3 linked regions of the Homo sapiens genome follow. The protein of the gene in region 2 purifies or fractionates together with the protein of the main gene of each other region. This does not show direct contact. Each region holds a gene or a part of one and is shown on either strand. Other genes may lie near its edges.

Region 1 (3,500 bases), on a different chromosome or scaffold from region 2:
ATCTTAAAGATGAGTCTAACCTTAGCCTCTAGGTCCACTGCTGCCTCCCTAATACCTCCCAGGATTACGAAGGGACCATGAACTCCCCTTTGCTTCAAGAAGCAAACTAATGGCCGGGCGTGGTGGCTCACACCCGTAATCCCAGCACTTTGGGAGGCCGAGGTAGGTGGATCACTTGAGGTCAGGAGTTCGAGACCAGCCTGGCCATAATGGCGAAACCCCGTCTCTACTAAAAATACAAAAATTAGCCGGGCATGGTGGCGCACACCTGTAATCCCAGCTACTTGGGAGGCTGAGACAGGAGAATTGCTGGAACCTGGGAGGCAGAGGTTGCAGTGAGCTGAGATCACACCACAGCACTCCAACCTGGGCAACAGAGCAAGACTCTATCTCCAAAAAAAAAAAAAAAAAAAAAGCAAACTACTGGCTTCTGGGTTTTGGTAGTACAGCACTTCTTCCAAAGGCTCCCCTCTGTCAACAGCTTCACCTCAGCATGGCACTCACTCAAGGATAGCTATAGCCACCCAACCAGATTCCACATTCTTTCACTCCGACAGACTCTGTTCTAGCCACATCAGCTGAGTCACCATCCCTCCATTCTACCACACTCTTCCTTCCTAGGTTCTCTGCCAAGAATTCCCTTTTCTATCTGGCAAACCCATATTCATTCCTCAACACTCAGCTCCCTCTCTGGGAAGTCTTTCCAACTCCCTACAAGCTCATCAATTCATCTTTCTGTTCCCATCACTTTACATGTGGACCTTTCTTATCCCATGCTACTCTGCACCATGCGTCACATGGCATCATAATTCATCTTCTGTATCTCTGTTTTCCTTGCAAGTCTGGGAGCTTCTCAAGAGAAAGAATCTTGTCTTAAAATCTGTTATATCCCAGGTACCACACATAGTAGCTGACATAAAGTAGGTGCTTAATAAATTAATTGAATTTGAACAGCATCATCCAGCCCCAAACTATAAGCAAGCCGTGATATCTATGAAAGGTTATCTTATTTACACACCAACAACAGTGGCCATTTCATCCTAAGCAGACATCCCCCTGCTTACACAAACCACATCCTTTTTGGGTAACTCCTCACACAGCCCCACACGACCAGGGGATGTGTGCTGTGCGCTCAGGGAATTCAAACCTAGGAAAAACGTGATTCGGAAGACAATTCCTTTGAAAAGCTTCTGTAGCAAATCCTAAAGCCAAAAAAAGACTTAGGATTCTTTCCTATTTCAAGATACTAACATCATTACTTTTTTCCATTAAGAGAGAAAATTTGGCCGGGCACAGTGGCTCACGCCTGTAATCCCAGCACTTTGGGAGGCCGAGGCAGGCGGATCATCAGGTCAGGAGATCGAGACCATCCTGGCTAACCCAGTGAAACCCCGTCTCTACTAAAAATAAAAAAAAAAAAATTAGCCAGGCATGGTGGCAGGCGCCTGTAGTCCCAGCTACTTGGGAGGCTGAGGCAGGAGAATGGCGTGAACCTGGGAGGCGGAGCTTGCAGTGAGCCGAGTAAGCCACTGTACTCCAGCCTGGGCGACAGAGCAAGACTCTGTCTCAAAAAAAAAAAAAAGAGAGAAAATTTGAATTAAGTAAAAATCCTTCCTTCTAGATTCCCCAGAAACCTTTTCTCTTTGTCCTATGGCTAAATTTTACACACAGCAACACAGTGTTAGAGCTGGCAGGGACTTTAGAAGTTTTAAGTCCAATCCCTTCATTTTACAGTGAAAGAAGCTAAGGGCCAGCCTGCCTGCCTTCTCATTCCAGAAATATTTGTTACAAGATCAGCTGTGGCTTCCAGAAATTTCTACCACATGGAAGTTCCCAGCAGACGGAAGGAGAGCCCATTCCTCAGAAAGGCTTGGGCATAAACAGAAACAGGTTCTGGTGATGAACTAGTTTGAAGAAAGCCAGGCCTTGAAGGCAGTGTCCACAGAGAAATCACTTAGTCAAGAATGCCTGAATATGCATTGATTTCCATTGAAAAGTAATTGCTACCATTTGTTCAGCAACTGCTATGTTCCAGGCCATGAATCAAGACACTTCTAGCATGCCAGTCTTCCCCACAACCTAAGAGGGCCTCTGGAGTCAGGGGCCTCGGGAGAGAGATGGAAAGCACAGTCAGCCAAGCTCAGGGTGGCCAGCAAGAGGGGAGGAGACTGGTGGGCTGGCAGGGACACAGCGCCAGGATTTCCTCCAAGGTGCTGCACCTTAAGGTGAGTCACATCCTGCTTGGGTGGGCCCCTGCCCCAATTCTCAGTTGGCTGGAAGAGGAGGATGCTAGGGGGTTGGAGGATGCTAGGGGGTTGGAGGTGTCTGTTCTTTGGGATGCTCCCTGGTGGAGGACCCACAAGGATGTGATATAAGGACAGACCCTATGTCAGTGCTTCCTGCGCTGGACTCATGAGAGATTGCTCCAACCTTCCCAGTACTTGTATGTTGGTTTTCTGTTTTATATTCTCTAAATTAAGCATAAATGTTTTATATATACTTTGCTAGGTATCATCTAAAAATAATAATTTTCTACCACTCTTGGATGTTCTGTACAAGAGGACAAGACTTAGCCTTTAGTTAAATTGCCAAGTAAATGAAATATGTTAACACCTTTTTGTAGTACCTTTCCCAACCTGGGACTGTGACAGATGGCTCATTAACAGCTCAATATCCATTCTCCCTTTCTTCCTTACCAACAGAACCCTGCTTTTATTCTACGGGGTAAAGAGGTCAGCTAAAGGACTACATTTCCGAGTGTTCTCTGCAACTAGGTGTAACCAATGAGATATAAGCAGAAATTGTTGGGTCAAGTTTCCCAACTTTAGTTGGTCTTAGTAGAACCATGGGCATCCCAGTGGTCCCCAGGCTAAGAGGGTGTCCCTGGCTCCTCACATCCCTGAAAGGCCCCAGGAAGCATGCCTAAGGGGAAGGGCAGGACCTGAGAGATTGCTCTTTCTGCTGGTGAAGCCGGAGGATCTCCTCTTCCTCCTCTTGGCACAGCTTCTCCCGCAGTTGCTGCATCTTCTCTTGCTTGGATTCCAGCAGGTGCCTCTGGTCTTGCTCGAGTACTTGGGCCACTGCCTCTTCCATGGCCTTTAGTGCAGCCTCTGAGAGCTGCTCTGGGGGAGCCACAGGCTCTGTGGATCGCCTACCATGGGTGGGGAATGGCATATCATCACAGGGTTAATGTCCACCCACCTCTGCATCCAGGTTAGAATGGATACGGAACATCACAGATGGAATCCTAATGGAGGGCCCACAATCAGGAGTCAAAGAGGTCACCCAAGGGCAGGCCAAGAGATACAGTCAATGCTTGTTCCATAGGACAAGCCCCATTGTGGCTGTTTAAGGCCCCAAGAGCCTAGGGAGAAGGGTAGCCCATAGCAGGCTCTCAGCAGACTTACGAGGTTATGGCCCAAGATCAAAATCTGAAGCTGCGGCTCAAGAGCTGGCAGCAGCAGGGAGAGAGTGAAGCTCTGTCCCTAATGGATTCCTTC
Region 2 (2,217 bases):
TGTTGGTTGGCCCTGTAGAGTTATTCTCAGTTGGCACTGGGGTAAAGATCATGAGACACTAGAATGGCAAGAGGGAGAGGCAAGGGTGAAGGGATGGTTGGTGGTGAAATTTCATTAGTCTCTAGCATGTGCAGGAGGGAACAGACTTAACAAGAAACCATTAGCATTTGAGGATATAACTAGGAATTTTCACTGCCTGTGGTAATGCCCAATTAATAGTTCCCTGTTTCCTGGAAGACTTCCTATGGTAATTTACAGATGGGGATACAGTTGCCAAAGCTCTGGGAAATTGTGTTTGGGTGTGAAAAATACTGTCAGGTAGCATAGTGATTTGGGTGCAGTTCTCAGATTACTCTTGTTTTTCTCTCCAGACATTGAAGAGTGGAAGTGTTCAGGAACAGTGGCTCACAGACTTACATTACTGCTTCAACGTGTATATCACTGGGCATCCCCAAGGGCCCAGTGCACTGGCTACAGTGTATTGAAGAGGCCATAGTACCTCCTGTTTGAAGTTGTTTATTCACATCTATCTTATTTGAAGAAAAAGACTGATGTAATAGATCTTTGTCATTAAAGCTGAACTTTTAAAGAAGTTTACGAACCTTCTTTCTTTGCACTGATATATGAAAATAATGTTTGGGCGTTCCTATTGATGTGTAGGCTGGCTTCCCGGACTAGCACACGATACATGGTCATAGGCGGTTGTGCATTGTGCATTTCATAGGAGCTAAATATTTACAAAATAGAGAGTGATACTGTGGTACCTTCTGTTATATACCAAGAAACTGGCTAAATCTTTGTAATTCCATCCAGGCAGACCTCCTTCTTTGTGTTTTTGTGATCACAAAAACGATGAATGTAATAATTAGTAAACTAAAAACCAAGGTAATTAAGTGAACACTTCATTGCCTATCTGTCTATCTCTTACCGTTAGCACAGAAGTGGCACTGATCTGAAGAAAATGAAAGCAACCCCCAAAATACCTGTGAGTAAAATATATCACTGTTTATGCCTACTGTCAATATTCTCACAGCAGCTTTCCCCTTAAACAATGTGAAAGAGCCCATCATCACTGGATTTTATTTAAACCAGGTGTTCTTAGAATGCTAGGATGTGTGCCGTTTCATTCTTCCCTGCCAACAGAAATGGCATTTTAAGAAGATTGCTCACTTCTGCAAGTTGGTCAGAAAATACAAGTAGAACGTTGACGCCTGAGTTAGCACCTTGCTGCATGAACAGTCTGGTCTGTAAACCCTACCTGACAGAATCCTTGATACTGTAATACGGCTGTTGGTATTCAGCACTGAGAAAGCCATTCAGTGAAGACGTGGCGGCAACTTGTGGCCTTGAGAGGCTAACGTAGGAACTGTAAAATGTAAGGAATCACCAGAATGTATCTATGGTCTTTTGGACAATTTCTAAATGAAAACAGTGGGCAATGATTCTGATCTAAAATTTAAACCTGATTAATTTTGAAGTAATAGTGGGACGTGATATGTGTGTGTGTGTGTGTGTGTGTGTGTGTGTGTGTGTGTGATAAGTTTGTTGCATTAGATGCCAGGAAAGTAGTGAGAGGAAGGCTGCTATGGGACAGGCTTCCTATCTCATTTAGGTTCATCTCTTGAAACAAGAAGCCAGTACCAGCTAGCTGGCAGAAATCCCAACCCAGCAGCCGTAGTTTTCCTTAGATTTTGCTGTTAATTATGAATTCTCATTTCCAACTGTACAGACTGAGGTGAAAGCAGACACTCAGGCACTTTGCACAGACATAGTCTATGCAGGTCCTTTCAGTGCAGGCTGTGTTGATTGACAAAACAATGCTGTGTAAGAGCAGAAAGGAAACATTCTGACATTTTCTTTCAGTTAACACATTTTTAGGTGAATCAGCCTTCAGGTACGGATATTAAAGTTTTCCCAAGGTGTAAAAGATTATCAGCAGAAAATCTGAACTCTGCACTAGCTATGCCAGCTCCCCCGAACACAGTCTTCCTCCATAGGCAGTCAAGGTTTTGTTTTGTTTTTTGGCTGAGTAGCTGATTGCAGGTTATAAGAAAAGTTCTTTGATCTTCCACTGTTCTCAAGGAGATGTATACACTGTAGGTTGCTCACTGTTAAAAACAAATACCAGATAGATATTAAGGTTATTAATTTTAAGGCTGAAGGGAATAGTTCATTGGTGTTGAGGAAGAAGGATTTCGGTTTAGGCTATCCCTGGGA
Region 3 (3,500 bases), on a different chromosome or scaffold from region 2:
TAAGGATGACATGATCTAATTTCCATATTTTAAAAGATCATTCTGGCTGCTGTACAGCAAATGGGCCAGAGGAGAAAAAGGAGGGAGGAAGGGAGGCAGCTGAGAGTCTGACCAGTCAGTGAGCTCAAGTGATGACAGTGGCTGAAGCAGGGCTCTGCCCTGCATGGAGAAGAGACGACTGGGGTGCGGGAGGCTGGAGAAGAGACGACTGGGGTGCGGGAGGCTGGAGAAGAATGACAACTGGGGTGCGGGAGGCTGGAGAAGAATGACGACTGGGGTGCGGGAGGCTGGAGAAGAATGACGACTGGGGTGCGGGAGGCTGGAGAAGAATGACGACTGGGGTGCGGGAGGCTGGAGAAGAATGACGACTGGGGCTGCGGGAGGCTGGAGAAAAACGACGACTGGGCTGCGGGAGGCAAGAGGGCGGAGGAATCAAGCATGACTGTCAGGTTTCTGGCTTGTGTAAGTGGCAGACGGTGCCATGTATGAAAAATGGGGAAAACCTGGGAAAAATATATTTGGGGGAATCAAGAGTTTTATAATAGAAATGATACCCTTGAAATGCTTACTCAAGTGGAAATATCAAGTAGGCTATTGAATTTACAAATCTAGAGCTCAGAGGACAGAACTGGACTCAATATAGAAAAATGACAGTTCCCAGACTTTAGCTAATTCAAAGTGTGGCAAGGGAATGAATGAGATCACTGCAGCAAAGTGCAAAAAAGGGGCCTGAGGTTGAGCCTCAAGGAGCCCTAATAATCAAAAGTCTATAGAAAGAAGAGACAGCAACAAATTTAGGAGTGGCAAGTGAGGTGAAAAGAAGAGCAGAAGAGACAATAGCACTGTGGAGGCCAAGACAGAAGTATTTCAAGGAGAGAGTAGTCAATTACATCCAGCACTGCTGAGGAGTTAAGTAATGTGAGAACAAAACAAGCGGCCCACTGATTTGGCACTTAGAGATCGCTAAAGACCTCAACAAGAACCATTTAAGTGTAGAGGTATCAGCAGAGGCTCTACTGGAGTCAAGAATAAATGGAAAGGGAAAAAGCGTGTAGCCTAGTTGCAATGTCTATGAAAGATGCTAAGCATGGCAGCTTAAATGATAGAAAGTTGACACTTATGTCCAATCCTAATTTATCATCATAAGGTCACAACAATTTTTGATTTGGGATCAAAATCACTTACTGATCCAAAGCATAAGTTTCTTCCAGTCTCCTAAGAAGGAAGTTTTCCCCTAATTTCTAATCTCTTTTCATAGCTCAGATTTTTTTCCGCTTTTCTCCAAAATACCTTTCCTTTAGACCACCCCATCTTCTCTAGCATCCGCTGGCCAAACTTGGAATCGTCATTACTCCAGGCAGTGTTCTGAGGATCCACAGCCCACTTCTGCTTCCGCCGACCTGTAAATGAAAAAGCATTATCATCAGCAATGGAGATGATACCCGGAAAATACCACACAAACATACACATGCACAACTTTGTGTATTTTATGTATGTATGTAAAATATGACATACATTACAATACAGAAATTAATTCAACACTCAACAGAATGTTAGACTGGATCATTTATCCTGATTTCCCTAATAAATGTATATTCTAGACATATAAGTTGACCTCTTAAGATTAAAACTGAAATGTTCCCTCATAATGTGGCAAAGCAAATGCTCAATATACTAGAGCTGGGCCTTCCATACTCCGCCATCAGCACAACTGAAAGCACCTGTGGACACCAGCATCCTCATCACCATCAGCAGTAGTAGCAGCAGCATTACAGCTTCCATTGCCATGCGTTACTACATACAAAAGAACATGCAATACCAAGGATGCGCTTAAAATAGTAAATGCCAATTATTCAACCTGAGACCTGCTCCAAACGCTGTACATAATATTCAGTTTTCACAGTACCCCAACGAGTGTGGATAGTACCATTGTCACTGGCAGATATGAAAATCTGAGGCTTAGAGAAAGAAATTTGCCGAACATCCCCAAGCAAAAACCAGATCCTTTAAACCAACCTTGGTCCTACTAACTTCAAAGCTTATATTCTTAATTCACAACATACAATAGTCATTATGCTCTTGGGGAGAGTCAACTGTACCCTCCACACATGTGACCTACAGATAATAACAATCCCATCCCTCTCATTGAGATGCCCTGAAGCCCTCTGACCCCTCTTTGAACTTCTAGAATAACTTATCTGTTTCTTAACATCCACTGTATTAGGGCTATTTATATCCGCCTTTCCGGTTTCCCATTAGACCATCATCTCCTTAGGGCTCATATTCATGTCTTTTTTCTGAGGCTTCATTGCAAGAAGTAAAAAAATCACTGTGCCCACAGCAGGCACTCAATAAATATGTGAATGGAATAAACGATAAAAATGAAGAATGGAAAGAGGAAGAAAGGAGGAAAGAAGAGGGAGAGGAAAAAAGGAAGGAAGGAGTATAACTGAATTAAGGGAACTGCTTTGAATCTCATCAAAGCAACTTTTTTTAATGCATATAAATTACTGATCATTATGAACTCCAGTTTATCACTGTCGTTTTAAGGAAAATTATGGCAAAAATAAAGAACTCCAAAGGTTCAAAGCACAAGAATGTCAAACTGAAAAGTAGACTGTGGCGAAATGAGAAATTTGGAGGTGTCATTATCATTTATCTGCCACATCAATATAAGCACATTGTCTCACCATCAACACAACCCCTCCTACCTTGCCCATCTCATCACATAATTAAAAAATAACATGACCCCCTGTCAAAGGGGCTCACTGTGGCACACATAAAATCAATAGAGGCCCATAACTATGCACACTCCAGCAAAAATAGGAAATCCTTTACAAATACACAGGCAGAAAAAAAGGCCCTTAACAAAGCAAAACAAGTTGGGCTCGAATTTGTAGTGTTTTGCAGAAAAAAAAAGGTGACCCAAAAATGTTCCATCTAAATTACCACTTTACTTATCTTGGCAAATACTCAGCATAACACTGCGTCTGCTAATGAACAACACACCAGAGAGAAGCCTGTTAGCCAGTATTCTATATGCAAGCTGGCATCAGTGTGTCAGAGTTCATGTGTCTATGCAGTGCTTGCCAGGGGTCTTTGACTAGGGCTTGTACGAAGGAGACAGTTTTGAGAATAAGCTCACGCTCTGCAGTTAAGAACTGCACACGCTTCACATTACCTACTTATATAAAACAAACTATAATGCCTACACAAGAGATTAGCTATTCAAGGTCAATTCCTCTCCCCTGGGAAAATGGCAGTTAGCTTCAATCAATGGGATCACACCAGTGTTTCCAAACAAGGATGTTGGGGGGGCGGGGGGTGGCAGTTTCCCATTGAAAATGAGTAACACTGGGTTAAACTAAATTTCATATGGAAGAATCTCCCGGAAACTTTACTATGCAAATGTGCAGATCCTCTTAGAGGAGGCCAGAGCAGGCCTGCCATGCTTCCCAGACTTCACTTGACCAGAACCCTGCTTCCCTGGAACATTTCCC

Evidence for each region.
Region 1: the proteins of INVS (region 2) and CEP164 purify together in Homo sapiens (affinity purification with western blotting, with the first as the bait; one study listed by BioGRID). This does not show direct contact.
Region 3: the proteins of INVS (region 2) and PINX1 purify together in Homo sapiens (co-immunoprecipitation; one large-scale study listed by IntAct). This does not show direct contact.

What each region holds. Positions count from the first base shown.
Region 1 is NC_000011.10:117,386,854-117,390,353, reverse strand, and holds part of CEP164 (centrosomal protein of 164 kDa), read right to left. Parts: intron 3,152-3,500; coding exon 2,942-3,151; intron 1-2,941. UniProt on the Homo sapiens protein: Plays a role in microtubule organization and/or maintenance for the formation of primary cilia (PC), a microtubule-based structure that protrudes from the surface of epithelial cells. Plays a critical role in G2/M checkpoint and nuclear divisions.
Region 2 is NC_000009.12:100,300,459-100,302,675, reverse strand, and holds the end of INVS (inversin), read right to left. Parts: intron 2,109-2,217; coding exon 2,002-2,108; 3' UTR 501-2,001; downstream 1-500. Other genes in the region: TEX10 (testis-expressed protein 10), read left to right, coding at 372-485. UniProt on the Homo sapiens protein: Required for normal renal development and establishment of left-right axis. Probably acts as a molecular switch between different Wnt signaling pathways.
Region 3 is NC_000008.11:10,833,376-10,836,875, forward strand, and holds part of PINX1 (PIN2/TERF1-interacting telomerase inhibitor 1), read right to left. Parts: intron 1,401-3,500; coding exon 1,291-1,400; intron 1-1,290. UniProt on the Homo sapiens protein: Microtubule-binding protein essential for faithful chromosome segregation. Mediates TRF1 and TERT accumulation in nucleolus and enhances TRF1 binding to telomeres. Inhibits telomerase activity. May inhibit cell proliferation and act as tumor suppressor.